Linked DNA regions of Homo sapiens. The protein of the gene in region 1 purifies or fractionates together with the protein of each later gene. This does not show direct contact. Each region holds a gene or a part of one and is shown in the gene's direction. Other genes may lie near its edges. The genes, in order: EEF2KMT, CEP78, BCAT2 and GALC.

Region 1 (7,857 bases):
AGGAGGTTGCAGAGAGCCAAGGTCGCGCCATTGTACTCCGGCTTGGGGCACAAGAGTGAAACTCCATCTCCAAAAAAAAAAAAAACCACAACACAACAAGGGCCCCGCATGTGACTGAAAACAACAGAAATGTATTGTCTCGCAGGCCTGGATGCCAGAAGCCCAAAATCAAGGTGTCGGCCGGGCTTCGCTTCCTCTGAAATATGTAAGAGAGAATACTTCCTTGCCTCTTCTGGCTTCTGGTGGCCGCTGGTAATGCTTGGTGTTCCTTGTAGATGCATCGCTCCCATCTCTCCTCCCTCATCACATGGCTGCCTTCTCCCTGTGTCTCTGTCTTCACCTGACATTCTCCTCTTTTATTTTTTTGAGATGGAGTTTCCCTCTGTCACCCAGGCTGAAGTGCACTGGCACAATCTTGGCTCACTGTAACCTCCGCCTCCTAGGTTCCGGTGATTCTCCCGCCTCAGCCTCCTGAGTAGCTGGGATTACGGGCGCCCGCCACCACGCAGTGCTAATTTTGTGTTTTTAGTAGAGATGGAGTTTCACCATGTTGGCCAGGCTGGTCTCGAACTCCTGACCTCAAGTGATCCACCCACCTCACCCTCCCAAAGTGTGCTGAGATTACAGGCATGAGCCACCATGCCCGGCCCTCATTCTCTTCTTTTATCAGGACGCCGGTCATTGCATCTGCCTCCTCACCAGCAGCCCCCAATCCAGTACGATTCATCATTACTTGATTACATCTAGAAAGACCCTATTTCCAAATAAGGTCACATTCCTGGGTACGGAGGATTAAGATTTCCAATTTTTTCCCTGACTCAATTTTTTTTGAGTCAGGGCCTCACCCTGTCACCCAGGCTGGAGTACAGTTATGTGATTATAGCTCACTACAGCCTCAAACTCCTGGGCTCAAGGGATCCCTTGACCTCAGCCTTCCAAGTGGCTGAGACTACAGGCGCACACCATCATGCCCAACTAATTTTTTTGGTTTTTTGTGGTTTTTTTGTACAGGTTAGGTCTCACTCTGCTCACTCTGTTGACCAGGCTGGTCTCCTGACCTCAAGTGATCCTCTTGCCTTGGCCTCCCAAAGCACTGAGATTACAGGCGTTATCCCGTGCCTGGCCCTCTTTCTACACCTCAGTCATTGCATCATTAGCCTGAGCTGCGCATATTCCTTATTCTACCCATCCCTGACCAACCTCCTCCTTTAACATAACTTCCACCTCGATATCATGGGGCCTGCTGGGCACTGCAAACAGCCTAAGGAAAGTGGAAACTTTACTTAACCTTCAATTCTATTGCAAAGTCCACATTGAACGTAATTTATATTTGAACTATAAAATTTTCTGTAAGTTGAAACATGACCTATAAAGGTCTCTACACCCTGAAGCAACGTTTTAGAAAGAAATCAATTGGTCCTTTTCTGCAGAAACCATTAACCATAGGAGAGATAAAGGAAAAACTTCAATGGACTGATTGAACTTCCATGCCCATAGCTTAACTTCTAAAAGGCAACCATTCCATACTGTTAAACTGCCTTAGGTTGTTATTACTGTTATTAAAGAGACCCTCAAAGCCGGAAGTTGAATCTCGACTGTAGTTCTTGCACGTACACGCAAACTCTTGCAACTGAAACCAGCTTGTCCTGATGCTGCTCCCCGTAGCAACACCGCCTGGAATTTCACGTTTGTTTTTAAGCATCAGTCCTAATCTTCACTTGCACCCGAACACACCGCACCTGTGACAGCCACGTGACATTAAAAAAATCCCTTCAGTGAGGCCGGGCATGGTGGCTCACGCCTGTAATCCCAGCCCTTTGGGAGGCCAAGGCAGATGGATCATGAGGTCAAGAGATTGAGACCATCCTGACCAACATGGTGAAACCCCGTCTCTACTAAAAATACAAAAATTAGCCGGGCATGGGGACGCGTGCCTGTAGTCCCAGCTACTCCGGAGGCTAAGGCAGGAGAATCGCTTGAGCCCGGGAGGCAGAATTTGCAGAAGCCGAGATCGTGCCGCTGCACTCCAGCCTGGCGACAGAGGGAGACTCTAGACTCTCTGAAACAAAAAAAATCCCTTCAGTGCCTTGATCCTTCCAGATTCAGATCCAAGAGAGATGACATTTGTCCCTCATCTGAACCCGCACACCAAGATAAAGATTTCTTCTGGCCAGGCGCGGTGGTTCACGCCTGTAATCCCAGCACTTTGGGAGACAGAGGCGGGCGGATCACCTGCGGTCAGGAATTTGAGACCAGCCTGGCCAACGTGTTAAAACCCTGTCTCCACTAAAAATACAAAAATGGCCCGGCATGGTGGCTCACGCCTGTAATCCCAGCTACTCGGGAGGCTGAAGCAGGAGAATCGGTTGAACCCGGGAGGTAGAGGTTGCAGTGAGCCGAGATTGCGCCATTGCACTCCAGCCTGGGCAACAAGAGAACGAAACTCCGTCTCAAAAAAAAAAAAAAGAAAAAAAGATTTCTTCTGTGCTCATGGCTCAGCTCTGTGGTCTGCTAGGGTCCTTCCTCAATCTGCTTGCAATCTATGGAATCAGGAAAGACTGAACCAACCTAGATTTATTAATATTTTAGTATAACATAATACAGTGTTACTTATTACAGCATTGACCGTATATGCCCTTTTGCTCCTTGGAGGAAAGGCAATTAATAGCTATTATGTGAGTTAATAAAATAAGCCCAGGATTTATGAGTGTAACTAACTTGTTACCATTGGTTTTCCTTGTCTCCTGCAGGCAGAGAGCTGATCAAAACAGCAAAAGCAAAGCAGTGCCCCTGGCCCAGTTCTGAAGCCAACCTTCCTTAAGCACCCAGACCCATCCCTGGTTAGGACTTGCTGTGGATTATCAGGTGACTCTATCTCAGGATACAGGGACTGAGAGGGTGTATGCAATATCTCAGACCCAGAAACTGTTGATTCTGTCTAAAAACACAGCAATAACCACATCCCACCCTCTTGATTTAAATGAAAGTGTTTGGGGGAATAAAAGATGAACCTTTTTTTTTTTCTTTGTCAGATCTTGAGCTCATTTGGTTCTGGTGGGGAACAACAGCTATGCGAGAACAAGTGTATTCTATTAGAATTAATTCCCCTCTTATTCTCATAGCTGAGCAGGGCTCAAGAGCCTCTCATCTGAAAGAGGTAATAAGATTTAATCTGTCTCCTCATCTACCTTCTGCAAGTATACTTTACAAATTAGCTCTCGGGACTCTTCCAAATGGAGTTTTATGAGGGATTTGCTAAGGTAAACGTTTTAGACTTTGAACACAGTTCAGATTTCAGGGGCAGTACTGAAATCTGAACTGTGTTGCTAACTGCCCTGCCTTTCAACTCAAGACACAATAACTTTGAACTAAATTAATTATATTTTTGTTGTTTTCCACTCTGTCCCCACGTCTATATCACCACCACCCCCAATCCCACCCCGCAGGAGCTAACTCCTCCTTCCTGTCCCTGCAAGATCAAAACTCCTCCTGCAAGCCCCGCTAGCTCTGTCTGCTCGCCTTCGTGGCAGATATCGCTATTGTACTTTTATACTCATTTGTGTGATAAATACTTCAATGTCCACTTCTTCCACGAGCCCCTGAGCCCCTGGAGGGCCTGGACCACACCTAGTTTTTCTCACCGTTACATCTCCCTTGTCAGGTACCTGGTAGGCGCTTAATAAGTATTTGGTGAACGAATGGCTTGTTTGGTGACAGTCCAAAGGCTGGGGGACAGAGGGAAAGCTCCCTCCTTTCGGACCCCAGACGGGTGGCGCTGATGGAGAGGAGGCTTGGATAAGGCCTCCAGGACCGAAGCGCGCACCCGTAGGGCCCCTGCCAAAAAGACCTTCCTGAAGGCGGAGGAACTGCGAGAGTGCCTACGTTGGCCCAAGGCCTGACCCGACGATCCCAGGGACCCTCGCCCTAACCGGCCCCGCCTCCCGGTCCCCAAACCCGGACTCGGCCCCGCCCTAAGCTCCGGATCCTGGGGCCCGCCCCTGGCCCCGCGTCGGCAGACCGTGGCCTCGCTGCTGGGCCTGCCTCAAACCCTCCACAGGTAACGCCTCCCGAACTTGAGCCACATTCCGATCCCCTCCTCAAACCCCTCCCCGTTTCCCACGCCCTGGACCCCTCGCTCCGTCTCGGCCCCGCCCCAAGCCCAGCTAGGTCTCGGCCCCTGAGCCCAGCCCCGACCGGCCTCCCAGTCCCTGGGTCCCTCCCGACACCGGCCCCTCCCTAAGCTCCGCCTCCCAGGGCCCGCCTCCTGAGCGCAGCCCGCAGCCCGGACTCGGCCCCGCCTCCCGGACCCTGGGCCCCTCCCCACGTCGGCCCGTCCTAAGCTCCGCCTCCCAGAGTCCGAGCACCGCCTGGCCATGTGCTACGACATAGTCAACGCCCCGCCCCGGCCCCGCCTCCTGAGCTCTTCTCTGGGTCTGGCCTTAGCGCCGCCCTAAGACCTGTCTCCTGGGCTCTGCTCCGAGTCTCGCCTCCTGAACCCAATGGCGTTTATCCCTGCCCTAATGCCCGCCTCCAGGACTCTTATCCTGCCCCCACGCAAGGCCCCGCCTCCAGGACGCCACCAACCTGGACGCTTCTGAAGCCCAGCTTCCAGGATCGCCCTATCCTGGCCCCGCCCCAGGACCCGCCAACCTGGACTCTACCCAGGACCTGCCCCCTACCCAGGACCTGCCCCAACGACGCTTATCCTGGCCCCACCCCAGGCCCCGCCCTCATAACAATCATCCTGGCCCCGCCCTAGAGTCCGCCCCCACGACGTTCCTCCTGACCCCCGGGGGACCCCCGGGCCCCGCCCCCTCTCTGCCCCCGCTCACTGCCCTGGGCCCGCCCCCTCTTCAGTCCAGGCCGGGCTTCCGCCCGGTCTGCCGGCAACGCTGCGGCCCCGCCCACGTCATGGCGCCCGAGGAGAACGCGGGGACCGAACTCTTGCTGCAGAGTTTCGAGCGCCGCTTCCTGGCGGCACGCACACTGCGCTCCTTCCCCTGGCAGGTGGGCGGCGGGGCGAGCGGAGAGGCCCGCGGGGCTCGCGGGAGTCCAGGGGCAGACGGGACGGGTCTCCGTGCTGAAGCCCCTGGCGCTCCCGCCACGTGAGTTCCTGGGCTCCCGCCGGTCAGGGCCGCGCGACCCGGTCCCCGTCCCTGGGGCCTGGCCAGAGTCGCTCGCACCCCTCCTGCCCCGCGAGCTGGCGGGGGAAGCTGGGGGCGTCTCCACAGCCTTGGGGGGCAGACGCGCGCTCGGTGTGGGGTACAGTTCACGATCATTTTCACGACTTTTTAAAGGCAGTAATCGTTCTGGTCACTGGGACACAGCTGCCCTCGCCCATTCTAAAAAGTCAGCGCCGTCAGGACCGCAGGTAACCACGTCCTCCTGAGCGCGGTGACCGGGTCACAGGCTGTCCCTCGTGCCTCAGTATTCTCATCTGTATGTTGAGCACTGCACAGAATCGGCTCATGCTCTGAGGCTGTCACGCCTGTGATGGAAGAGACAGAGAAGGGGGTGGCCTCTCCTCGCCCTGGGGACCTGCCATTCTCAGCACAGGCCCATGGCAGGCAGCAGCCTCCCTTCTGCCAGCAGAGGGGCTTAATGCACCCGGCCTCATTTGTAATTCATGTGCGGTGAGCTCACTGGGATGAGTGAGTTTGGATATATATTCCTCCCTGGGTCTGCCCCATTTTATGGGGTGTTGCTTAATCATTTGCGTTATTCCATTGACATAAAATATTTGCACTCAGAGATCATTTCTGGTCAAGAGAAATTCGTGCATTTTTAACCCAAAATAGAAACCTTCATAAAAGCATCATAGGTCTCCATTCAGTATTGACTGTAATTGTTCACATGCCCACGCTGAATGCTAACTTGGGCTCACCCTCAACACCCACGAGGTGGGTACTATTATTACCACTCACATTTGACCAGAGGGATTGTTTGATTAGGGTGCAGTAGTTGAGAGTTCAGACCCAGGAGACAGCCTGTCTGCTTCGAATCCTGGCCCAGCCCCTGGCCCTGTGTGACCTTGGGCAAGTGACTGCATCTCTCTGTGCTGTTTTCTTATTAATAAAATGGGGGATATAATGATACCTACCTCTTAGGGTTGTTGTCAGGGTTGAGTACAAAAGCCTGTGGATCAGTGCCTGGCTCATGGTAAATACATGTTGGTGTTAGCTAGTGTTTTTATTCAGTCTCAAAATGTTTAATAAATGCCTTCTGTGAGCCAGGCACCATGGATCAGCAGTACCCATGACAGATGAGGCTCTGCTTGCATGGGAGAGCCAGAGAATAAACAAATAAATAAACAAGAAAAGACCAGATGACAGTGGCTTTAAAGCCAATAAAACAGGGAAATAGTGAATGCGGGAACTGGGAAGAAGAGTCACCAAAGTCAGGGAATCAGGGAAGCCTTCCCCAAAGAGGTGGCATTTGAACTGGGGCCTGAGTGGTGAAGCAGCCAGCCATGGGAAGGGCTTGGGGAACAGGATATGCAAAGGCCCTGTGGTGGAAACAAGCCAGCTGTGGTTGAGGAACAACACCAAGGCAGCCAGTGTGGCTGGAGTGGAGTGAGCAGGGTGGGCCAGGGGTGAGGGAGAACAGGCCAGAGAGAGGGATTAGGACCAGGTCTTGTAGGGCCTTTTATGGCATGGAGGGAGCTCTGAAGCAATGAAGTGCCTTGCCCTGTGTCACATACCAGCCGAGACAGTCTGCCTAACTCGGGAGCCAAGGCTCGCTGCTGGGCTTGAGGCCCCTGTAAGAGGATAATGTAACTCAGGCTGGTATGGGCACATTCTGCATCTCCACTTAGATGGCAAGCCCATCAAACCTTGGTGCCATGGCTGCCCTGGTAATTCCTGGCTGAGCAGTGCAACCAGGGAGCTGGCCCATGACCCGGGTGGCCGCTAAGTAGCCAGGACTAATGTGGCCAAAAGTCAGCCTTCTTCCTGTGACTCATCCAGGTGCACCCTGCGACATCTGAATGTCAGGCTTTCAGCCGCTGTGGCTTCCACTTCCAACTGGCTCCACGTCCCCAGGGAGGGATCACACAGCGCTTTGCCAACACATTCTATTGCGTGTTTAATGTTCCTGTGAATGCGCCCTTGAGATTTCTCTCTTTCCCCTCCACACAGAGCTTAGAAGCAAAGTTAAGAGACTCATCAGATTCTGAGCTGCTGCGGGATATTTTGCACAAGGTAAGAATCCCAGAGTCCCTGGGACTCATGACCCTGCCTCCTGAATCTCTCCAGAAGACCTGAGAGAAGAACTGCAGGTGTGCTTGTACCCTTTAAAAACACCCCTGTTCAAAAAACAAAACCATTGAGTCAGCACTGCAGGTGGGTGTCAGCACCTCTGACAGCTCCAGCGCTTTCGTTTTCTATTTAAGACTTAGACAAAGACTTCAGAATATACAAAAACCTGCAATGAGAGGGGGGAATCTAGGGAATGTTTTTTAAACCATCCACAGCAAAAACAGAGATGACAGGTGCAAAACAGCTTCTAGCATTTGGTTGATGTTCAGAGACTTTCTTTTTTGCTTTCATGAGGCCTGTCCTGCCCACTCCTGTCTCCTCTAGACCTAAATGGGCCCTTGCTTTGCCCAGGGTGGGGTTTGGACTCAAGTGCATCTGCCTGCAGGTGAGAGGCAGGATCACCACCCGGCCCAGCCACAGCCTGACCTTGGCCTTGAGGGCCAAGTGCAGATCACCCTGCATCCTGGGTCTTCACGTTCGAAGGGCCATGAGCCCTTCTGAAAAGACCAAGCAATAGACTCCCTCGCAGAAAGAAGTGCACCAGAAGAATACATTTTCCATACAAACTCAGGAGGCAGATATCCTCCACCCCCACCCACCC
Region 2 (7,877 bases), on another chromosome or scaffold:
GCAATGCAAATAGAAGGAAGGGAAGAAGAGTATGAGAGATGCTACAAAGGATAAACTGTGAAGTCTTGGTCATTGGTTGGATACATCCATTTATTCATTTAACAAATATTGTCAGGAATTGGGCTAGCTACTGGGGATGCAAGAATAAGTGGCAGGGTGTGGTGGCTCAGGCCAGGCATGGTGGCTCACACCTGTAATCACAGCACTTTGCAAGGCTGAGGTGGGCAGATCACGAGGCCAGGAGTTCGAGACCAGCCTGGCCAACATGGCAAAACCCCATCTCTACTAAAAATACAAAAATCAGCCGAGCGTGGTGGCTTGCACCTGTAATCCCAGCTACTCGGGAGGCTGAGACAGGAGAATTGCTTGAACCCGGGAGGCAGAGGTTGCAGTGAGCCGAGATCACCCCACTGCACTCCAGCCTGGGTGACAGAGCAAGACTCCGTCTCGGAAAAAATAAAAACAAAACAAAAACAACAGAATAAGCAAAACAGACACGATCCCTTCCTCAAGGACCATATGGTAAACATTTATTTCAAAATGAATGCGAAATAGAATGAAGGCTATCAACAAGAGTTACGTGGTATTATGAGAGCTTATGATAGGGGATGTGATGAGTCAGGGAGGGAGGAAATGCTTCCTCAACAAAGTGACACATGAGCTGAGATGAGAAGATGCGGAGGCACTAATTAGGTGCAGAATGAAGGGAAGGACATCTCATGCAGAGCGGACAGCATGGACAGTGGTTTATTCTAAGTGTGCAGGCCTGAAAGGAGACTACTATAGGCTGGACTGCTGAGAATGAAAGAGACTAGGACACAAGACAAAGCTGCAGAGATCATACTCCATCATGCCCTGAGGATGCAGCACCCTGGAGACTAGTGCTACTCAAAGTGCCACTGGACAATGAGATAAGGAGCTTGTTCTAGAATGTAACGCAATACACTGCTCTTTTCATGAAAAAAATCTAAGCAGTATGTTTAGTGCATGTGTGATTTACATTCTGAATTGAGCTCCTCATCTTATAAGAACAGTAACAGTTCTAAAATCAATAGCTAGTCTGTGGACTCCACATTGAGTGGAGCACTATTTGAGACCATTGTGAAGTTTGTCTTTATCCCGAGAGCAAAGGGAAGTCATAGAAGGATTTGCAGAGGAGGTGGTGGCGGCTGCAGTGTGGAGCATGGATTGGAAGGCAGCTGAAGTCAGAAGAAAGAAGACAAGAAAGTTTACATTTGGAACTGTTTTCCCTGATGAAGTAAGAGGTGTCCTGTTCAGGGATGTAGAATGAAGTGTTATGGTGTATTAGTCTGTTCTCATGCTGCTAATAAAGACATACTTGAGACTAGATAATTTATAAAGGAAAGAGGTTTAATGGACTCACAGTTCCACATGGCTGGGGAGGCCTCACAATCATGGCAGACGGCAAAGGAGAAGCAAAGGCACGTCTTACATGCGGCAGGCAAGAGAGCTTGAGCAGGGGAACTCCGATTTATAAAACCATCAGGTCTCGTGAGACTTATTCACTTTCACAAGAACAGTATGGGGGGAACCACCCCCATGATTCAATTATTTCCACCTGGCTCTGCCCTTGACATGTGGGGATTATTACAATTCTAGGTAAAGTGTGGGGACACAGCCAAACCATATCAAGCAGCAACATGAAAAGAAAGAAGGAGAAGGAATTGGAACAACCACTGTGAGTAGCCACAAGGAAGGTAATGGGAAAAAGAAATGGGGACCACACATCCGTTAACATAAGACAGCTTATGTTGTTGGCCAGGTTGACATTGCTCTGTGCCTGGATCCATCAAACCTCACTGCTCTGGAAGCAAGTACAGAGAGGATGAATGTTAGAGATAAGCAGATGATATGGCATTGTGGTTCTATGGAAAGGTAAGTGGGCTAGGAAGTCGGGGTATAACAGTCTGGATTGACTGGGAGTAGAGTACAGTGAACAAGTGCTTAAATGATACCATTTACCTGTATTCTACTCAAACACTCACTCACCAGATCCCCTGAAGGAGGAGAGCTCATCTCTTATACCACCCAGTAGAACGTCCCTCCCAAGTCATGCACCTGCAATGAAGCCAAGGCATTTTGTCTTGGGCCAGGTGTGAGCCTGGTTTGTCAGAGGATCCCAGAGGTGCCACAGAGAGACAGTTTTCATTCAGTGTTCAGGGAAGTGTGTGGGTGAACCCACCAGATGCTGAAAGGAGAACTGGAGCCATTCTTTTTTTGAAGCAACTATTAAGTCATAATTTAACTGAAGCAGAGAAGAGATTATCAGGCAAGCCTTGAAAGAAATCTTGCCACACTAAAAATAAGTAAGCACAGGAAACATAAATTTTAAATGAATATGTTAAATGATTATTAATATGAGGAAGACTTCTCTGAGCTGCATTCATAGGCAGTGGCTACAGGGTGCTGGCAATAGCTTGCGGGGATAATAGGGAAGAATGTTCCTACAATTAGTCATTAGTTAGCACTTTCTCTGTGCTAACACTGTGCTAGGCATAGGGAATGTAAGCATGAATGAGACATGGTTCTTGCCTTCAAAGGGCTTTCAGACTCTGGAAGGAAAACCATCTAAAAAGATGTTTATCATTGGATGTTCTAAGTGTTATGCTACAGGGATGTCAGGGAGCACAGCAGTGAGGTGCTAAACAAGCAAGGGAGGAGAGATGAGGGTTAGAGAGAAACAGGCTTTCTAGGGAAGGTGCCCCAAACCAAGGCTGGGAAAAGAATGGAAGTTAGCCGACTAAATAAAGGAGCAGCCTATGAAAAGACCCAGACAGCAACAATAGGACATCAGAAAGTTCAAGCAGTTCTGTGTATCTAGAGAAGACATGCCAGGAAGAATGTAGCAAGGAGAGAGACAACAGAGATAGTCAAATTATGAAGGAGCTTGTATGTCAAGCTACGTGACATAGATCTGACACTGAGGGCAGTGAGAAATCTTGGCTTTCTAGGGGGCAATTTAATGGATGAAGAGATCTATCTGTGTTAGAAGTAATCTGCCTAGAGTGGGGAAGTTAAGGCTGAGCAGAAGACAAGAACACCCAGAGAAACTGTAAAATGTCAGAAGGGGTGAAAGCTGAGGGTAGAAACCTGACGAACAGCAATATTTAGAGTGGATATGCAAGAGAAGCCAAAGAATGAGACTGAGAAGAAGAAATTCGAGAGGTAAAGAAAAAGAAATCAGGTGGCTTCATGGGAAACAGGGAGGAGGGAGCTTTAAAAAGGTAATGGACACTACATTAATTGATGCTGGAGACTAGAAAGAAAATGGATAGAGCAACAAAGAAATCGTAAAGTTGGAAACAATTTAAATTACCATCAACAGAAAAACAGACACATTACTGTATGTTTCTACATGGAACTCCCATATAACAACAGGGAAAATAAATGAATATCTCTATATGTCAACACGGATGGACCTAGTAAAGGTAACGATAAGTAAAGTAGGAAAAGAAAATATAGAATGTTATATACTGCTTACTTACATATGTAGCAGAAATATAAAGACATACATTGCAACGATGAATACCAAGTTCAGAAGAGCAGTTATCTCAGAGTCAGAGAGTAGTCGTGATTGGGAAGGTGGTTACACAAAGCTCTTCAACAGGAATGGTAATGTTTCATTTATTAAGCTGGTTTATGAATATACAAGCGTTTACTATATTAAGATTTGAGCATGTCGCACATAAAAATAATTGGTGACCATATCTCCGGAATTTTAGAGACGCCTGCATATGTGTGTTGGAAGTAAGTTGGAGTATCCGGAATGCAGTGGGTGGAACAGGAATGCAATAAACACAATGTCTAAGGCTCTACCGGAGGACTATCATTGCTCTAGCAATTGCATACCAATAGAAGGAGAGGTCAATTATCTGGATTCTTCCACTTAGCTTCCACTTAACTTCCCCGTTCCTCAGTTTCCCCTTTTGTAAAGTAGAATATAATAGTATATTCCTTGAGATGTTAGGAGAATGAAATGATTTCATACTTAAACATTGCTTAAAATAATCCCGAGGACATTATTTCAAATAAGTACTAGTTACAAGGGAGTTAGCCAACATCATCGTCAGTACAAAACAAACTGATTCACAGCAAACACAATAAAGTCCTGAATTCATGAAACACTCTTCAATTTGCCAGGAACCGTGTGAGATATGCAGAAACTACAGAAATTAAGGCTTATTTGTAGATATTAACACAGACATAAAAGATTTAATGACCGCAGTTCACGTTCAATCAGCCGTTCCCACATCCCTTGAGTGCAGTCTCTGTGCTGGCTGGACACTGCAAGCACAGACACATTCCTCAGATGTTTAGACTTTTTTTAAAAGTGCGTTGTTACATCCACATTTCACTTTTTATTTTCTTTCTTTTTTTGAGACGGAGTTTCGCTCTTGTCGCCCAGGCTGGAGTGCAATGGCAAGATCTCGGCTCACTGCAGCCTCCGCCTCCCGGGTTCTAGCGATTTTCCTTCCTCAGCTGGGATTACAGGCGAGTAGCTGGGATTACAGGCGCCCGCCACCATGCCCGGCTAATGTTTGTATTTTTAATTGAGACGGGGTTTCGCCATGTTGGCCAGGCTGGTCTCGAACTCCTGACCCCAGGTGATCCGCTCGCCCCCGCCTCACACAGTGCTGGGATTACAGGCGTGGGCCACCGCGCCCGACCACACATTTCACTTTTATTCGGATCGATCAGTAAACTCTTTCGCAAACCCTCAAACTCTCCCGACCACTATCTCAGGTAGCAGCGAACTCACCCGTCCTCAGGAGGCGGGACCTGCGTGCCGACGCACAGCGAGCACGTTGACGTCTTGGCGCACCGTTCCACGGCACCGCCCACCGGCTTGAATCCCGGCGCCTCAGAGGACTATGAGGCGGGCGCCAACTGCTTGGGCCGCAGGGCGGGAGGCAGCGCGGGAGTGGGGCGTTGAGGGGCCGGCCTAGCTTGGGGCTCTGGCCTTGCGTCTTCCGACCGAATCACCGCTCCTGAGCCCGGTGCGGGGCTGCCGCTATCGCCTGGCCGTGGGTGCCGGAGCGGCCGGGTTGCGACTCAGCGTTCTTGGGTGGGCGCGGGCGGCGTCTCCGCGGCGGGCATCCCCCGAGGCCGCCCTCGGGCCATGATCGACTCCGTGAAGCTGCGCCGCGACAGCGCGGCGGACTTCTTCTCCCACTACGAGTACCTGTGCGCGCTGCAGAACTCGGTGCCGCTGCCCGCCGTGCGCGCCTGTCTCCGGGAGGGCGTGCTGGATTTCAACGCCGACCGCCTCCGCGGGGTGGACTGGGCGCCTCTGCTGAGCACCCTCAAGATCAATAAAGACCTGCCCTTGGTCTCCATCAAGAGCTTCTTCCAGCCCTGGCTGGGGGACACAGGTTTGTAGTTCCCGCCTCCAGGGCCCCTCAGTCGGTGCGGCGAAGTGGGTTTTTAGGTGAGTGGTGTCCATTGTCGGGGTATGTGTGCAATAGAAGGGGTGTGCGGCCTGGACACTCACGAGCTAGGTGAGTGGCTTAAGGTCTCTAGGGCTTCAGTGTGCTCATCCGTAACATGGGCTTAATAACGAGACCCAGGTTATGTGCGCCTTCGCAAGGATTCCCTGCGCTGCTGATGCCTGCAGAGCTCTTAGCACAGTTTGGGACATCATTAAACATTTGACAGATGTTACCTATTTTATTGAATGACTTTGATTTGCCTGATAGAGAACTAAGCAGGTAGGAAATTAATACATGTCAGCCTTTGTCTTTTTTTTTTTTTTTTTTTTTTTTTTTTTGAGACACTGTTTCACTCTGTCGCCCAGGCTGGAATGCAGTGGCAAGATCTCGGCTCACTGCAACCTCCGCCTCCCGGGTTCAAGTGATTCTCCTGCCTCAACCTCCCGAGTAGCTGGGATTACAGGCGCGCGCCACCATGCCCGGCTAATTTTTGTATTTTTAGTAGAGATGGGGTTTCACCATGTTAGCCAGGCTGGTCTCGAACTCCTGACCTCAGGTGATCCGCCCGCTTCGGCCTTCCAAAGTGCTGGGATTACAGGCATGAGCCACCGCGCCCGGCCTGTCTTCATTTTTTAAGGTGTATATAAGAAGTTTGTAAAGTGCTTTACAAATACAAGCCATTTGTAAATGTATAGTGGTATAATTAGGGATCCAGACTCTCTGATTATTCGGAAAATATGTTAGGTCAACTATGATATATGACAAAATGCTGTTATTCCTTTGAGCACTTAGCATTTTCTACATAATGGAGGCAGCTTCCTATAGACGCTAGCTAGGTAACAGGAAGGAACAGTTTGTGCAAAAGTTTTGGAAATAGGAGAGAGTATGCAAGCTGAGTTACAGGACTGGAATTTAGGTTTGAGAAAGAGCAGAGAGAGTTGAGGCTGGAAACCTTGTGGGGGCCAAACAGGGAGGGTCCTCGTTTGTCCTGTCATAGAGTTGGATGTTTATCCTGAAGGTTTTGGGAAACCGCTGTAGGATGATGAGATGGAATTTCCGTAGGAGCTCAGTCTAGCCTCCATATGGAAGACAAATTAAAATTGGAAGGATGGTGAATTGTAATCTAATGGCCCAAACTAAGGTATAGAAAAGAAGGGCTGGGGCCGGGCACCGTGGCTTATGCCTGTAATCCCAGCACTTTGGGAGGCCAAGGCGGGGGGGTGTGGATCACCTGAGGTCAGGAGTTCGAGACCAGGCTCACCAACATGGTGAAACCCCATCTGTACTAAAAATACAAAAAAAAAAAAAAAAAAAATTAGCCGGGCGTGGTGGCGGGCACCTGTAATCCCAGCTACTTGGGAGGCTGAGGCACGAGAGTTGCTTGAACCCAGAAGGTGGAGGTCGCAGTGAGCTGAGATTGCACCGTTGCACTCCAGCCTGGGCAACAAGAGCAAAACTCTGTCTCAAAAAAAAAAAAAAAGAAGGGTAGGATTTCAGATATCTAAGAGAATGGATGGGCGTGGTGACTAGTTAGAAGAGGGGGGCAGCAAGTATGGGTGACAGTTTACAGCAGCGTCTGTAAGTGAAACACAGCAGCGTCTTTCCATGACACAGCCGAGTTAACTCGAATGAGATTGGGGGTGGGAGGAGGATCTCAGTTTGTCTTTAATGTTTTAAGAGGGGCCTGTGGGGCATCCAAATGTGTCTGCTAGGCAGATCTGGGCCCAAGATTTAGGCTTTGTGGGAGGACAGGTATTTGAAGGCATGGGAGGGACCTAGATTACCCACAAAGAAGATCCAGATAATTGTAGGTCTGAAAGGTGTTTTTTAAGTGGATATGGACGTGAACATGTTTATAAGCTGAGAGAAAGAGGGAGGGTGTGCGATCTGGGAGAGGAAATGATTATTGATGTATTTAAAAACAACCTGACCACTTGTCGTGTGCCCGGCCCTTTTCTAGGCTCTGGGGTTAGCACCATCTCTTCTGCAAGGACAGTTCAACACATCTGCTTCTGAAAATAAGTCAGATTATTCTCTACATCTCATTCAGGTGCAGGAACTGTTCTGTACCTCTGAATGGACTTTAGTTAACCAAAATAATATCAGGAACCAGGCCAGGTGCGGTGGCTCACACTGGTAATCCTAACACTTTGGGAGGCCAGGAGTTTGTGACTGGCCTGGGCAACATAGTGAGACTCCTGTCTCTACAAAAAGTAAAAAATATTAGCTGGGCTTGGTGGATCTCTTGAGCCCGGGAGGTTGAGGCTGCAGTGAGCCATGATTTTGCCACTGTACTCCAGCCTGGGTGACAGAGCAAGACCCTGTCCATGACCCTCCCCCTACAAAAAATAAAAAAACCAGGAACCAAAATAAATTAAAGATGGGAGGGACCTCAGAGTCAAGGCTAGCCTACTAGATCTTGCCTAA
Region 3 (7,020 bases), on another chromosome or scaffold:
GCTCACAGGGCAGGCCAGGCCAGGCCACTCTGTCTCTCTCAACCTCACGCCCCAACGCCTCCCCACAGGGCTGGGGAAAGAGGCCTTGTGAGGTCAAAGGTCACCAGAGAGGGCCCAGCCTGCTGGACACAGCCAGACCTGCTCTTCCTACTCCCCTCTGGGAGGACCCGCCTGAGCCTCATGCAGTGAGGACTGCAGTGGCTCCCCAGGCCCCTGTAGCTGCCCCTCAGCCCCAGGGGCTGAAGGGAATTGGAGTCACTGCCAAAATGGGTTTGTATTTCAGGTAATCAGAGCCCAGTTGATCGAATACCTTCAGAGAATAAGCACCTGTACTCCTGGGTCTGGCGGAGGAGGGGCTGGGGAACTGGACTCCTGGGTCTGAGGGAGGAGGGGTGGGGCCTGTACTCCTGGATGTAAGGGAGGAGGGTCTGAGGCCTGGACTCCAGGGTCTGAGGGAGGAGGGGCTGGGGGCCCAGACTTCGGGTCTGAGGGAGGAGGCAGCTAGAGTCTGGACTCTTACTTAGGTCTGAGGGAGGCGGGCCTGGGGTCTGCACCCCTGAGCTCTGGGGGAGCAGGACCTGTCGGTCCTTGGTCTTCTAAGGCCTGTCAGCACTTGGGTACCCGGAGGCCTTCACTTACCTGTGTGCCTTCCCTGGTTGTTTTCTTGTCTGAGCTGATCTCCAGGCTGCGACCAAAGGTCTCTGGGGTGGGAGGCGCTTGCGTTTGACTTTGCCGCAGCATGGAGGAGGGGGCGGGAGCTGACTCAGCTCTTTCCAGCGAGCCCTCGTCAGGGCAGGGAGGGGACTTGGCCTCCTTCAGGACCACCTGCCCCGTCTAGAATGGACTGAAACTGGGACAGAACAGGCAGGCCAGTGGGACCTCCAAGTGCAGGAGGTGGCGAGCGAGCTGCCAGGGCCCCTGCTGTGCCCCACTCACCCCCTCTCTCACTTCTTTCTCCACCCAGATCTGGGCACGAAAGCTTCTCTCTGTCCCTTGGCTTCTGTGTGGTCCCAGAAGATATGCCTCCTCCAGTTTCAAGGTGAAAGGAGGGAACTCGATGCTTGGCTCTGAGAGAGGAGGGGGCTGGCAGCTGGTTTTGGGCATCTCCAAAAGGTCCACAGCCCAGAGATGGCAGTGAGTGGTGGTAGCTTAACAGCCTGCCATTGGGCCGCAGACAAGGGATGAAACTGCATGTCCCAGAATCCTCCAGGGTGACAGGTCCTTCTTCTCTATGGGTCTGAGGCCCAGGGCTTCATGGGAGTTGTAGTTTTTCAGCTGGGAGGTTGTGGCCAGATTCTAGGATACCCCTGTCTTTCCTCAGGCTGCAGACCTGCAGCTGGAAATGACACAGAAGCCTCATAAGAAGCCTGGCCCCGGCGAGCCCCTGGTGTTTGGGAAGACATTTACCGACCACATGCTGATGGTGGAATGGAATGACAAGGGCTGGGGCCAGCCCCGAATCCAGCCCTTCCAGAACCTCACGCTGCACCCAGCCTCCTCCAGCCTCCACTACTCCCTGCAGGTGGCATGGCGGCCGGCCTCTCTCCCTGTCCCTGTCTGCATCTCCTCCTCCTTGCTGTGTCTCTTGCCAGGTGTACCTCTCTTGGTTTGTTTGTTGTGTGTTTCTCCTTTCTGTGCATTCACCATTTGTTTTCTGAGGCCTTCCATGCTCCAGGCTCATGCTTGGTGATGCTGGGTTCCCCGAGATGAGCAGACCCGGTTCCTTCACTTGGAAAACCCCATGCTGTGGGCATAACTCAGTATGATCTGTGCTCTGATGGAGGCCCTGTGGAGGCCAGTAGAGACCCCCAGCCTCACTTGAAAGAAAGCATGGCTTCTTCTGGCATAGAGGGAAGCTTAGAGGGGGATGGTGGGAGAGGTGACAGGGTGATGGTAGGAAAGGGGACAGCCGGGGGGCTGGCGGGAGAGGGACAGCCAGGATGATCGCGGGAGAGGGGACAGCCATTGGGGGGGGAGATGGTGGGGGAGGGCACAGCCAGGGGGATGGCTGGAGAGGGGACAGCCAGGGGAGGGATGGCGGGAGAGGGGACAGTCAGGGGAGGGATGGCGGGAGAGGGGACAGCCAGGGGAGGGATGGCGGGAGAGGGGACAGCCAGGGGAGGGATGGCGGGAGAGGGGACAGCCAGGGGAGGGATGGCGGGAGAGGGGACAGCCAGGGGAGGCATGGTGGGAGAGGGGACAGCCAGGGGAGGGATGGCGGGAGACGGACAGCCGGGGGAGGGATGGCGGGAGACGGACAGCCGGGGGAGGGATGGCAGGAGAGGGACAGCCGGGGGAGGGATGGCGGGAGAGGGACAGCCGGGGAAGTGATGGTGGGAGAGGGCCAGCCGGGGGAGGGATGGCAGGAGAGGAGACAGCCCAGGGGGGATGGCGGGAGAGGGGACAGTTGGAGATGGCGGGAAGGGGGACAGTCGGTGGGGGATGGCAGGAGTGGAGACAGCCAATCCAAACCCCAAACGGGAGTAGAGCCTGGTACATTTGGGAGAAATTGCGGTGTTGGAGCATGGTTAAGGAGGCTGAAAATGTCAGGGCCATGGAGGAGCTGAGGGGCTGGGGCCTTGTCCAAGGGTGCTGGGAGCCACTGAGGGCTCTGAGGAAGGGAGGGGCAGGGCCATGTCTGGGTATAGTAAGAGCCCTCTCAGGCCATGTGGAGGGCAAGAGTTGCAGGCTAGGAAGCCGGGCTGGTGACCAGGTAGACCTTGGGCCTGTCCCCACATGGGGACCCAGGAGGAGGAGCGGCTTTGTGGCACCTGGTGAGCCTGAGATACTGTGAAGTTTCTAGGAGACAGATCCAGGAGGCATTTGGTTTTAGGACTTATAGCTGCGGCTGAAAGCAAGGTCTTCAGAAGGAAACTTTGGTTGAGACAAGATTTAAGTGAGCATCTTACAGCTCCAGTAACTGGTTAGCAGGTTGGCTGATTTTAGTCCTCCAGGGCACAGTTCTGTGGCATGAAGACTTTTATTCCATTCCTTTCTTTCCTTTCCCTCCCTCCCTCTGTTTTTTCCTTTCTTCCTTCCTTTCCAGAATTTTAAGGTTTTGTTTTTTCCCCTCTCCCCTCCCACTCTGGACATCTAAGCAACACCAGTCGATTCTGTACAGAGCACACACACCTCCAATCACAGCCAGACACTCCTGCCAGTACATAAGCGTGATGGGCAGGATTCCGCCTGCTGAGCCCCCAGGAAGCTGGTTACTTGGAGACCACCACACACTTCTCCCTTCAGCCCAGCACAGCAGTTGTCCTCTGGCTGGGGACCCAGTACTTTTTCTTCAGCTGAGTGAGAGCAGAGGAAGCCTGTGGCCCTGGCAGACAGAACGCACTGCTGTGATCCCGCGGGTCCAGGGGGCGGAAGGGGGAGGATGAGGGAGTAGGACAATGCTGTCCCTATGTCACCCACACTCCAGGGCATGTGTGGATTGCAGGCCGACCACGTGTATTATTTTTTATTTTATTTTTTCTTATTTATTTATTTAGAGACAGAGTCTCACTCTGTCCCCCAGGTTGGAGTGCAATGATACAATCTCGCTCACTGCAACCTCCGCCTCCCGGGTTCAAGTGATTCTCCTGCCTCAGCCTCCCCAGTAGCTGGGATTACAGGCGCCCGCCACCACACCCGGCTAATTTTTGTATTTTTAGTAAAGCCAGGGTTTCACCATGTTGGCCAGGCTGTTTTCGAACTCCTGGCCTCAAGTGATCTGCCCACCTCAGCCTCCCAAAGTGCTGGGATTGCAGGCGTGAGCCACCATGCCTGGCCTTATTTTTTATTATTGTGGTACTAATACGCATACATAATAACACACAGCATCAAATGTGGGATTCCAACCATTTTATTTGTTTGTTTGTTTGTTTATTTATTTATGAGATAGAGTTTCACTCTTGTTGCCCAGGCTGGAGTGCAGTGGCACAATCTTGGCTCACTGCAACCTCTGCCTCCCAGGTTCAAGTGATTCTCCTGCCTCAGCCTCCTGAGTAGCTGGGATTATAGACATGCACCACTATTGGCTAATTTTTGTATATTTAGTAGAGACACGGTTTCACCACGTTGGCCAGGCTGGTCTCAAACTCCCGACCTCAGATGATCCACCGCCTCATCCTCCCAAAGGGCTGGGATTACTGGCGTGAGCCACGGCGCCCAGCCTCCAACCATTTTAAAGCCCATAATTCAGTGGCAGGCAATGTTATGCAACCATCAGCACCATCAAGGTTCAGAACTGTTTAATCCCCCATACCTATTAATCAGTACCCATTGTCCCTCACCCCAGCCCATGACAACCATTAGTCTGCTTTCTGTCTTTGTCTACCTGTATTTGTTTATTTATTATCTTTAAATAATAGGGATGGGGTTTCACCATGTTACCCAGGCTGGTTTTGAACTCCTGAGCTCAAGTGATCCACCTGCTTCGGCCTCCCAAAGTGCTGGGATTACAGGCGTGAGTCACCAAGCCTGGCCACCTGCATTTTTGTTGTTGTTGTTATGACTCTTTTTTTGAGAAAGGGTCTTGCTCTGTAGCCCAGGCTGGAGTGCAGTGGCACGATCTTGGCTCACTGCAGCCTTGACCTCCCAGGCTCCAGCGATCCACCTGCGTCAGCCTTCCAAGTAGCTGGGACTGCAGGTGTGCACCACCATGCCCAGCTAATTTTTATTTTATTTTATTTTTTTTTAGGGATGGGGTCTTGTTATGTTGCCCAGGGTGATCTCAGATTTCTAAGCTCAAGTGATCCTCCTGCCTCAGCCTCCCAAAGTCCTGGGATTGCAGGCATGAGCCACTATATCCGGTGTATCCGGGCTCTTTTACCTGGGTTTTGTTTTGTTTTGTTTTTGAGACGGTGTCTTGCTCTGTTTCCCAGGCTGGAGTGCAGTGGCATGGTCTCAGCTCACTGCAACCTCCGCCTCCTAGGCTCAAGTGATCCTCCTGCCTCTGCCTCCCGAGTGGCTAGGACTACAGGCACACACCACCTTGCCCAGTTAATTTTTAAATCTTGTGCAAAGACAGGATCTCACTTTGTTGCCCAGGCTGGTCTCGAACTCCTGGCTTCAAGCAATTCTCCCACCTTAGCCTCCCAGTTCTGGGGTTACAGGTATGAGCCATCATACTGGGCCTGGAAATTCTTCTCTATACCTTAAAGCTTAAAGAGCTTTTTCCATCTTTCTTGCAGCCTCATGCTGTATCATCCTAACAATGCACCTCCTTAGGCAATCCCCTACTGTTGGACACTTAGGTTGTTTCCAGTCTATTATAAACAATTTTGCAATAAAGAATCTAGTACAGGGCCGGCTGTGATGGCTCACCTGCAATCCCAGCACTTTGGGAGGCTGAGGCAGGTGGGTCACCTGAGGTCAGGAGTTCAAGACCAGCTTTGCCAACATGGTGAAACCCCATCTCTACTAAATATACAAAAATTAGCTGGGTGTGGTGGCGGGTGCCTGTAATCCCAGGTACTCGGGAGGCTGAGGCAGGAGAATTGCTTGAACCCGGGAGGCGGAGGTTGCAGTGAGCCGAGATTGCGCCACTGCACTCCAGCCTGGGTGGCAGAGTGAGACTCCATCTCAAAAAAAAAAAAAAAAAAAAAAAAGGAATCCAGTACACACGTCCCTTCTTTAGTCACTTGTTTAAGTGCAAATGTATCTAGAGGCTCAATTTCGGGAACTGTAGGTCAAAGGATATGTATGCTTGTAATCTTGATACGTATCGCCACATCTACATCTACAGGGTGTGTCAGTTTCCACACCCACCAGCAGAGCCTGTTTCCATACCTTGGACAACCCTTGTCCAAGTTTTAGATCTTTTCCAATCTCCCATGTGGTTTTAAAGGTATCTCAAACTAATTTTAATTTGCATTTTTCTCCCTAGTGATTAATGAAATTGACTATCTTCTCACGAGCTTAAGGGCCACCTGTATTTCCTTTTGTGTGAACTGTCCATTTGCTAGGCTGATTTTTCTATCAGGTTAGGTTTTAAAAAATTCATCTGGGGCTGGGAAGAAGAGGCAGGGGGATTGCTTGAGCTCAGGAGTTCAAGACCAGCCTGGGCAACATAGTAAGACCCTATCTGTACAAGAAATTGGAAAAAAAAAAAAAGTCCAGTCGTGGTGGCTCACGCCTGTAATCCCAGCACTTTGGGAGGCCGAGGTGGGCGCATCACCTGAGGTCAGGAGTTCAAGACCAGCCTGGCCAACGTGGTGAAACCCCGTCTCTACCAAAAACACAAAAATTAGCCGGGCGTGGTTGTAGGCACCTGTAATCCCAGCTACTTGGGAGGTTGAGGCAAAAGAATTGCTTGAACCTGGGAGGTAGAGGTTGCAGTGAGCCAAGATAGAGCACTTCAGCCTGGGCAACAGAGTGAGACTCCATCTCAAATAAAATAAAAAATAAAATTCCCAATCCAAGATATAAAACAGTTATTTTTGTTTCCTTCTATAGCTTTTATGGTGTAATATATATATATATATTTTGTTTAGACTTTTAATGCACCTGGAATTTTTTCTGGTGTGAGGTGTGAAATAGAGATTCAACGTAGTTTTTCTCTAGATGGATATTTGGTTATCTATTCCATTATTCAGTCTGTCCACTCATATAGCAGTGTCACTCTGTTTTAAGTATTGTAGATTTATAATGTTTTACTACCTGATATGGCTACTCCCTGCCCCTGCCCCATCTTGCCCCTCATTTTTGTGGTGGTGGTTTTTATCCCCCCAAAATATTGTAGCTAGTTTTGCTTGTCTTCCATTCATTTATCTATTCATTCATCAAAAACCCACTATGGGAAAAAAAAAAAAAGTCTGGCTGGGTGCAGTGGCTCACCCCTGTAATCCTAGCACTTTGGGAGGCTGAGGCGGGTGGATCAACTAAAAATACAAAAATTAGCTGGGCGTGGTGGTGGGCGCCTGTAATCCCAGCTACCCAGGAGGCCGAGGCACAAGAATCACTTGGACCTGGGAGGCGGAGGTTGCAATCAGCAGAGATCACGCCACTGCACTCCAGCCTGGGTGACAGAGT
Region 4 (7,020 bases), on another chromosome or scaffold:
CAGTCCATGTCCTTAAGGAACTAAGAGGTGAGTCAGAAAAATAAAGGAGTGCCGGGGTTCAAAGTGTTGTAATAAAGATATGGACCTGGTGCCAAAGGAGAGGCGCTTACATCAAATCAGTGAGCAGGGCCAGAAGGCATCCTTCCTTCAAATTCCAGAGGTGGAATTTGAGCTGAAAGGTGAATTGGAGTTGTCCAAGAGAGGATGTGGGGTGCATTCCAGGCATAAGAATAGAAAACGTTGTTTGATACATCTAGGTAGAAGGTGTGAGAGTGATAAGGGATAAAGTATCAGGGTTAGGAGCCAAATAATTAAGGGATTTGGGTGCAAAATTGAGCGATTTGAACTTTATCCTGAAAGCTTTTGGGAAAGGGACGGTCTTAGCATGTTTACATGGAAGAGTTTCGTGATTACATTTGTATTTTGGGAAGGTTACTCTCGTAAGTAGCATGGAAGATAGAATACAGGGAGAGGCAGAAGGGATGTCCTGAGACCACTTATACTGTTCTCATAAGTGAGGAGGGCCTGGGTAAGTCAGTGGGGTTGAAGAGTAGAGGAGGGATTTGAGAGCTATTGAGGATATCTTGGTGACTGAGGGTACATGGGAAGTTTGGACAAAAGGTGGCCCAAGTTTATGGTTTCGGCAAGTGTTGGTTACTGAGACAGCAAGTTCAGGAAAAGGAGCAGATACATGCAAAAGTGCTATGTTTGGTTTGGGATATATTGAGGTAGATGGAAAGAGTGGCTAGAGAGCAGCTCCATGGGTGTTTGCCTCACTGGTAGGGACTGGGGATGTTTTGGGTGTGACAGAGTAGATATGGGCACTTACCAGAATGTCAGTGGTAGCATATATGAGAATATAAAATAGAAAGTTGAACCCCATAAAAGTATTTTGTCCCAACCATCATACATACACCTGGCAAAGTGTCAGCAGTTTGAACCTAGGACTGTCTGGTTTACAAGCCTGAGGCTACTGTTTCATGCCAAAAACCGGCCTCTTTTTATTTATTTTTTGCTTATATTGCCTCCCAAAGGATAGATTATGGGTCAGTTACTGGTTTTGTGATTTCTTTTTTCAAATAGTTGTATGCCGTGGTCCAGGCATGATCCAGTATTGGTCCCTGCGCTGTCTACCCTTGTCTTTCCATGCATTCTGATGCCACTCTTGTGTTAAGTTTTCTTAGTACAGCCTGGTCTGGAGATTATTGCTAGTTATTCTTAATAGTAACAGGTAGAATTTATGAGGATGGGGAAAGTAGTGCTTCCTTTCAGCATTGCTGCTTGTGATGTTTTTCCGGAAGATGTTAAGGGGAAAAATTACCTGACATTCATCCCTCCCATTTTAGTCCTGAGATATTGTTGTCAAGTGGTCTCAAGATAGAAAACCTGAGTTTCAAGATAAGTTTGTGATCATGAGGTTAGCAAGCTTACCTCCCAGTTAGCCCTCATGCCAGAAGAAGAGAACTTTTTTAGCTGTCGGACAGACAGCAGCCCTACTTGCCCAATGATTGGCACAGAAAGGGCAGACAGACAACTTGTGAGGAACTTTTCCTCAGCCTGACCTTGCCTGAGGCTAAATATGTGTATACCAGGTGGTGTGCGTGAACACTGTAGACAGATATTCATGACTGGATTTCTTTTATTCATACTTTTGAAAACTTTTTTTTTTAGGCAACCTCCCGACTTCTAGTAAATTACCCAGAGCCCTATCGTTCTCAGATATTGGATTATCTCTTTAAGGTAATGAAAACATAATTATTTCATGGTACCTGTGATATTTTAGAAATTGGATGGTGAATTTCACCATAGAATTTATTAGCCTCACAATTCTAGTTTTTGAAAAAATGGCACATTACTTTTGGAATAAATTGCTATTTGAAGTTTTGCTTTTGTTTTTGCGTCTGTAAAACCTAAGGCAGTAATTAGTAATTGTCTTGAAGCTTCATACAATACAACACTATGTTAATACTGTTACTTCTTTTCACAGCCGAATTTTGGTGCCTCTTTGCATATTTTAAAAGTGGAAATAGGTGGTGATGGGCAGACAACAGGTAGGAGAATTTGGGAGATAGGATTTCTCCCATCAACATTTTAATCTATACCTCAGCATATGGACTGTGATTTCAGAATATGTGTAAACAATACCAACACTTTTGAGATTGATTGTTGCTTATTAGAGTTTTCCTCATTTTTTAACTGTAATTATTTAAAAATATTATATAGAATATGACTGGTCCATCAAAAACAATATTCAAACTTCAAATTGCTTATTTAGTTGAAGTAATCGGTAGTAAACAAATCCACAGTTTTCTAAAACCTATATATACAGGACAGAGCATAGGGACAGTTTTGAATTTTATTGAGCAGTTAGAAAGATTTTAATTTCGTATAGAACAAAAAAAGTGTTATTAACTTAAAATATGTGGTAAAAATGATACAGCTTTTTTTTCTTTTAAAAACAAAACTTATCTTTAATCACTAAATCTTCAGTCTTCATTGTCACTATTTTGATTGGCTTTATGTAGTCCATGTTATCAACTGGCAGTTTATAGGCCTTTTGTTTCCAGGAAGAAGAAAAGAAATTCTCTCTATGATTAGATATAGCTTATTATTTACAGAACAGATTCCATTATAATGAACTCTAGAGTATTACTTGTATTCCTGCTAGTGATTTGGAAGTAACTCTTTGTTGAACAGATATGTCTATGTGGTGGTATTAGTGTTTATGTTGAAGAAAAAGTGCAAAGCAAAAACAAAAGAAACCCCCATAACAGAAACTTTCTTCAAGCTATTGCGTTTTACTGTTAAAACCTTTTAGGCAGAATTGACAATGATGGACTAATTTCACTTGCTGAAGCTAAATTAGAGGTAGAGGTACATAAACAGGCAGTTCTTGTGAATTCTGATGTTTACCTTTAAGAAGAAATGGGCAAGGGCCTCTCGGAAGGCCCTACTTAGCAAGGGCAGATGTTGGTGAACTGTGGGAATATACGAGGACTTTGATAGCAATTACCTACCTCAGTGCTAAGACAATGTAACCTCTACTAACTGCAGATGTTAGTATAGAATTTTGTTATTTTTAGAGTGGATATGTATACTCATTCCTTTTTTTTTCCTCAAAACTCTTCCTATATCAAGACATATTATAGGCTAAAGGTGTGGGTTCTGAGAACAGGGCTCACGAGTCCAGGGATTCATATCCAGCGTTGAAAAGCTGAAAGTTGAGGTAATCAGAACTTAAAGTTGGACATGGGGATTTGAAAACTACAGAGAGATCAAAAGCCCAGAAGCATGAATACTGGGAATTTTTAGTTATATGAGGTGATAACATTTCTCTCAGTACTGCTTGTAATAGAAGGTTGTGGTTTTATTAAGACTTTTACAATGCTTAAGATAATAAAAAAAGGATGAAATGATATGCTTTTATCATCCATCCTTTAGTTGTGTAAGATTATGATTTCCCCAACTTCAGGATTAGAACTGGAATACTGCTTTTGTGAAGTGTGTGTCTGGGGTGGGGGTGGGGAGTGAGATGGTCCTAGGAAGTACCATTCATGGATCATTACTTCCGTTTTTGCTCTCCTCTATTCAGACGGCACTGAGCCCTCCCACATGCATTATGCACTAGATGAGAATTATTTCCGAGGATACGAGTGGTGGTTGATGAAAGAAGCTAAGAAGAGGAATCCCAATATTACACTCATTGGTAAGAAATGAAGTTTGCAATGTTTCTTCAGTCTCTTTTCCTTTAACTTTTAAATTCTGAATCGTGTTGGTGGAATCTCTATTAATACGGAAGTACTCATAATGTCATTAATGCTACCAGTATGCTACCAGCAGCAAAGCATGTGCCAGGGGTGATCCTTTCTTTGCCCTTGTATATTATGTTGAATCCTTATAATACCTGTGGAGTAAGGCATGACTCTTTCCATTTTCCAGGAAGAAGCAGTAGAAGCTTAGGAAGATTATGCCACTGACCTAAGGTCATAGACAGTTAGTAAATGGCAAAATCGGTGTTAGCACCTAATTCCATGTTTCCTATGATGCTAAACTACTTTCCTTCACAAGATCTGTCATCAGTATTTATAAAAGGGTAACACTGTTCACAAAAATGTATATTACATGCAGTAGTACACCTAACTAGTTACAAAATTGTATATTGCATGTAGTAGTGAACCCTATTTTTAGAAAAGGTACATACAAAAGTGTTTTTTGTTTATTAGTTAGTTTTTGAACTTCAATAATGTGCTGGTTACTGTTCTGGGACTCAGGAAGCCAATCCCGTCCCCAATTCCTGCACCTGTGGGGCTTAGGTTCTATTGGGAGGATCATTGGCTAGTTGCTTAAATGGGACTATGTACATTTCACAGTTCTGTGAGAATGTGTACAGAGCTTGTGAAGTATTTCAAACATCAAGAGTGATGGGATACTTTCATCATTTGAAATGAATTTGATTTTTTGAAACAGGCTTAAATTCAAACTAAGTTAAATGAAATTAATGATTCATTTTAAAGACCTGATTTCTAGTTATTTAAAAAATAATTTTCTCAACAATCAGGTTAATGAAAAGTAATATTTTCTAAGTTAAAAGAAATTAGGAGTAAGTATGTTCTTTATAAATGGGCTTTTGTAAGAGATTCCAGAAATGCTGTGAGCAGTAAAAGCATCACTGAATTCAGCACATATCCACTAGACTGCTTCCAAGGTCAGACCTCATTTAAATGTAGAAAATATGGCATGCTAAACCATGTCCTAACAAAGACTTGGTAGGCCTTCAGATTGCATTTAGCATTTCATTGTTTTCAAGAATTCTATTACTTTAATGTCACATTTCTTATGTAATACACTTGGGTGTTCCTCCTGAGTTTAGAAAATAAGCATTTTGTCATTTTGATTTTTATTTTTTTCAGTGGTGAACTAGTTTGGTAATATATTTATTGCTGAGGAACTTAACTATTGAGCCTATTTTAATATATTAGTAGCAAGTTAAATTTAGAATTATAATAAGTACTTTTCTACTCTTCTTATTTTTTTACTTAAACATAATCAGGATTATTGGAAGAATATGGACTTATTTGATGTGTATCACTTAACAAGGGTATATTTCTCTATGGAGTCATTGTCATTTATAGTGATATAAGAACAAACTAGTTTTGCTAAATTAGATTGCCTGACTGATTAATATTTTAAGGACCCTAAATTGTAAGAAGATGTACAATTGAATGATAAATTTGTGTTATACATAACTCAAGAGTAGTTTGGCATAAGCCTTTTAGAATTCTTTGATTTGACCTCAAAGAACAGAAGTTGAATATTGAACATTCCAACAGTGAGTGGACATGTTAAGTTAAAACATATGGTACATTTCTTTCTATTGGTAAGGGTCTTGGAGAGAGGTGTTTGTATTTGTTATTTTTCTTCTTCTTGGAAAGAACATTTGAAATTATGGGACCTGACTCTAGGGATCAATAAGGAATTATAGTGTCTATAGATTGGAAAGGATTTCAATAATTTTTATATGGTATATAAACTTTCCTTTAGTCAGATCTGTATTGGTTTTTTGCTAGTTGAATGCTTTTCTTAAAAAAAATTTGTTTTATTTTCAATAGCGCCAGCACCGTTATACCTCCTCTACCTTTGCCTCCTCCCTTCTCTCTGCAGGGTTGCCATGGTCATTCCCTGGATGGCTGGGAAAAGGTTTCGACTGGCCTTATGTCAATCTTCAGCTGACTGCCTATTATGTCGTGACCTGGATTGTGGGCGCCAAGCGTTACCATGATTTGGACATTGATTATATTGGAGTTAGTAATATATTTAAAATATGATTCAGTTTTGGACATTTGTTTGTAATTTAGAAAATAATTTGATTCTGTGGTACTTTTTGACTAACCATTTTATGCCATGAGGCTAATTTGTTCTAATGGTGTCTGATAATAACACAAACTAAGTACCTGTGACCTTTAATTGCTCCCCTTTGCCCATCCCAGTGTTCCCACTTTTGAAAACTGTGTTGAGTGTATACCTCCTTCCTCTGAGCTGGGTTTTTTTTTTTTTTTTTTGTATCAACCCAACTCAAATTCTCCTTCAAAGCTTTCCCTGCTTTCTCTGGTTCCTACAACAGTGTTGTGTTTCCTATACAGCTTATGGGGGGTTAGTCTCATTTTATCCTCTTGTTGTCTTAAGCCAAAGATTGGCAAACTTTTTATTAAAGGGCCAGAGCATAAATAGTTTTGGGTTTGTGGGCCAAAAGGCAATATTGAGGATCTTGAGGTAAATATATAGCCATTTAAAATGTAACTATTTAAAACTAAAAACACTTTTAGCTCTCAAGTTGTAAAATTACAGATGATGGGCCAGATTTGGCAGGCTGGCTGAAATCTGCGTTCACCTGTCACAAACTGTTAGTTAACACCTTTTAAGGATTTGAAAAGTATGAAAAATGATATCATGTCCAGCTTGTCTCTTGGCTGGGTGGAGGCATGCCCCAGGCTGCATCGTACCCCACAGGGCCTTAACACACACATAGTGGGTCTCCATAATCATTTGCTTATTAATATACCATCAGTTAAAACTAATACTTAAACATTTTCATGCAATCATGACTTAGATTATCAGCAAACAATTATTGAGTTCCTACTGTGTTGCAGGAACTGTGACTGTAATATTTGAGGGCTACTAAGATTAATAAGCTCTTGTGTTCAGTAAGAGAAGTAGATGCTGGAACATATAAACTGTAATACTACATGATGATACAGGGCATGAGGATGAGCCAAGGGCTGGAGGAAGTCAGAAGAAAGAATATACTAGTTTTTGCTATCCTTTTCCAAATTATGACTGAAAAATTAGTTTATATTTGAGAACTTTCCTTTTTTTTTTACACTGTCACCCGGATTGGAGTGCAGTGTTGTGATCTTGGCTCACTGCAACCTCTGCCTCCTGGGTTCAAGTGATTCTCCTGCCTCAAGTAGCTGGGATTACAGGCACCCGCCACCACACCCAGCTAGTTTTTTTTTCTTTTTA

The links.
Region 2: the proteins of EEF2KMT (region 1) and CEP78 purify together in Homo sapiens (co-immunoprecipitation; 2 studies listed by BioGRID and IntAct, with this or other methods). This does not show direct contact.
Region 3: the proteins of EEF2KMT (region 1) and BCAT2 purify together in Homo sapiens (affinity purification with mass spectrometry; 3 studies listed by BioGRID and IntAct, with this or other methods). This does not show direct contact.
Region 4: the proteins of EEF2KMT (region 1) and GALC purify together in Homo sapiens (affinity purification with mass spectrometry; 3 studies listed by BioGRID and IntAct, with this or other methods). This does not show direct contact.

What each region holds. Positions count from the first base shown.
Region 1 is NC_000016.10:5,094,794-5,102,650, reverse strand, and holds the start of EEF2KMT (protein-lysine N-methyltransferase EEF2KMT), read left to right. Parts: upstream 1-4,855; 5' UTR 4,856-4,911; coding exon 4,912-5,007; intron 5,008-5,297; exon of another isoform or gene 5,298-5,371; intron 5,372-7,136; coding exon 7,137-7,199; intron 7,200-7,857. UniProt on the Homo sapiens protein: Catalyzes the trimethylation of eukaryotic elongation factor 2 (EEF2) on 'Lys-525'.
Region 2 is NC_000009.12:78,231,211-78,239,087, forward strand, and holds the start of CEP78 (centrosomal protein of 78 kDa), read left to right. Parts: upstream 1-4,864; 5' UTR 4,865-5,140; coding exon 5,141-5,393; intron 5,394-7,877. UniProt on the Homo sapiens protein: Centriole wall protein that localizes to mature centrioles and regulates centriole and cilia biogenesis. Involved in centrosome duplication: required for efficient PLK4 centrosomal localization and PLK4-induced overduplication of centrioles.
Region 3 is NC_000019.10:48,801,019-48,808,038, reverse strand, and holds part of BCAT2 (branched-chain-amino-acid aminotransferase, mitochondrial isoform a precursor), read left to right. Parts: exon of another isoform or gene 1-670; intron 671-964; coding exon 965-1,039; intron 1,040-1,321; coding exon 1,322-1,522; intron 1,523-7,020. UniProt on the Homo sapiens protein: Catalyzes the first reaction in the catabolism of the essential branched chain amino acids leucine, isoleucine, and valine. May also function as a transporter of branched chain alpha-keto acids.
Region 4 is NC_000014.9:87,983,175-87,990,194, reverse strand, and holds part of GALC (galactocerebrosidase isoform a precursor), read left to right. Parts: intron 1-1,671; coding exon 1,672-1,740; intron 1,741-1,987; coding exon 1,988-2,051; intron 2,052-3,122; exon of another isoform or gene 3,123-3,226; intron 3,227-3,592; coding exon 3,593-3,706; intron 3,707-5,661; coding exon 5,662-5,801; intron 5,802-7,020. UniProt on the Homo sapiens protein: Hydrolyzes the galactose ester bonds of glycolipids such as galactosylceramide and galactosylsphingosine.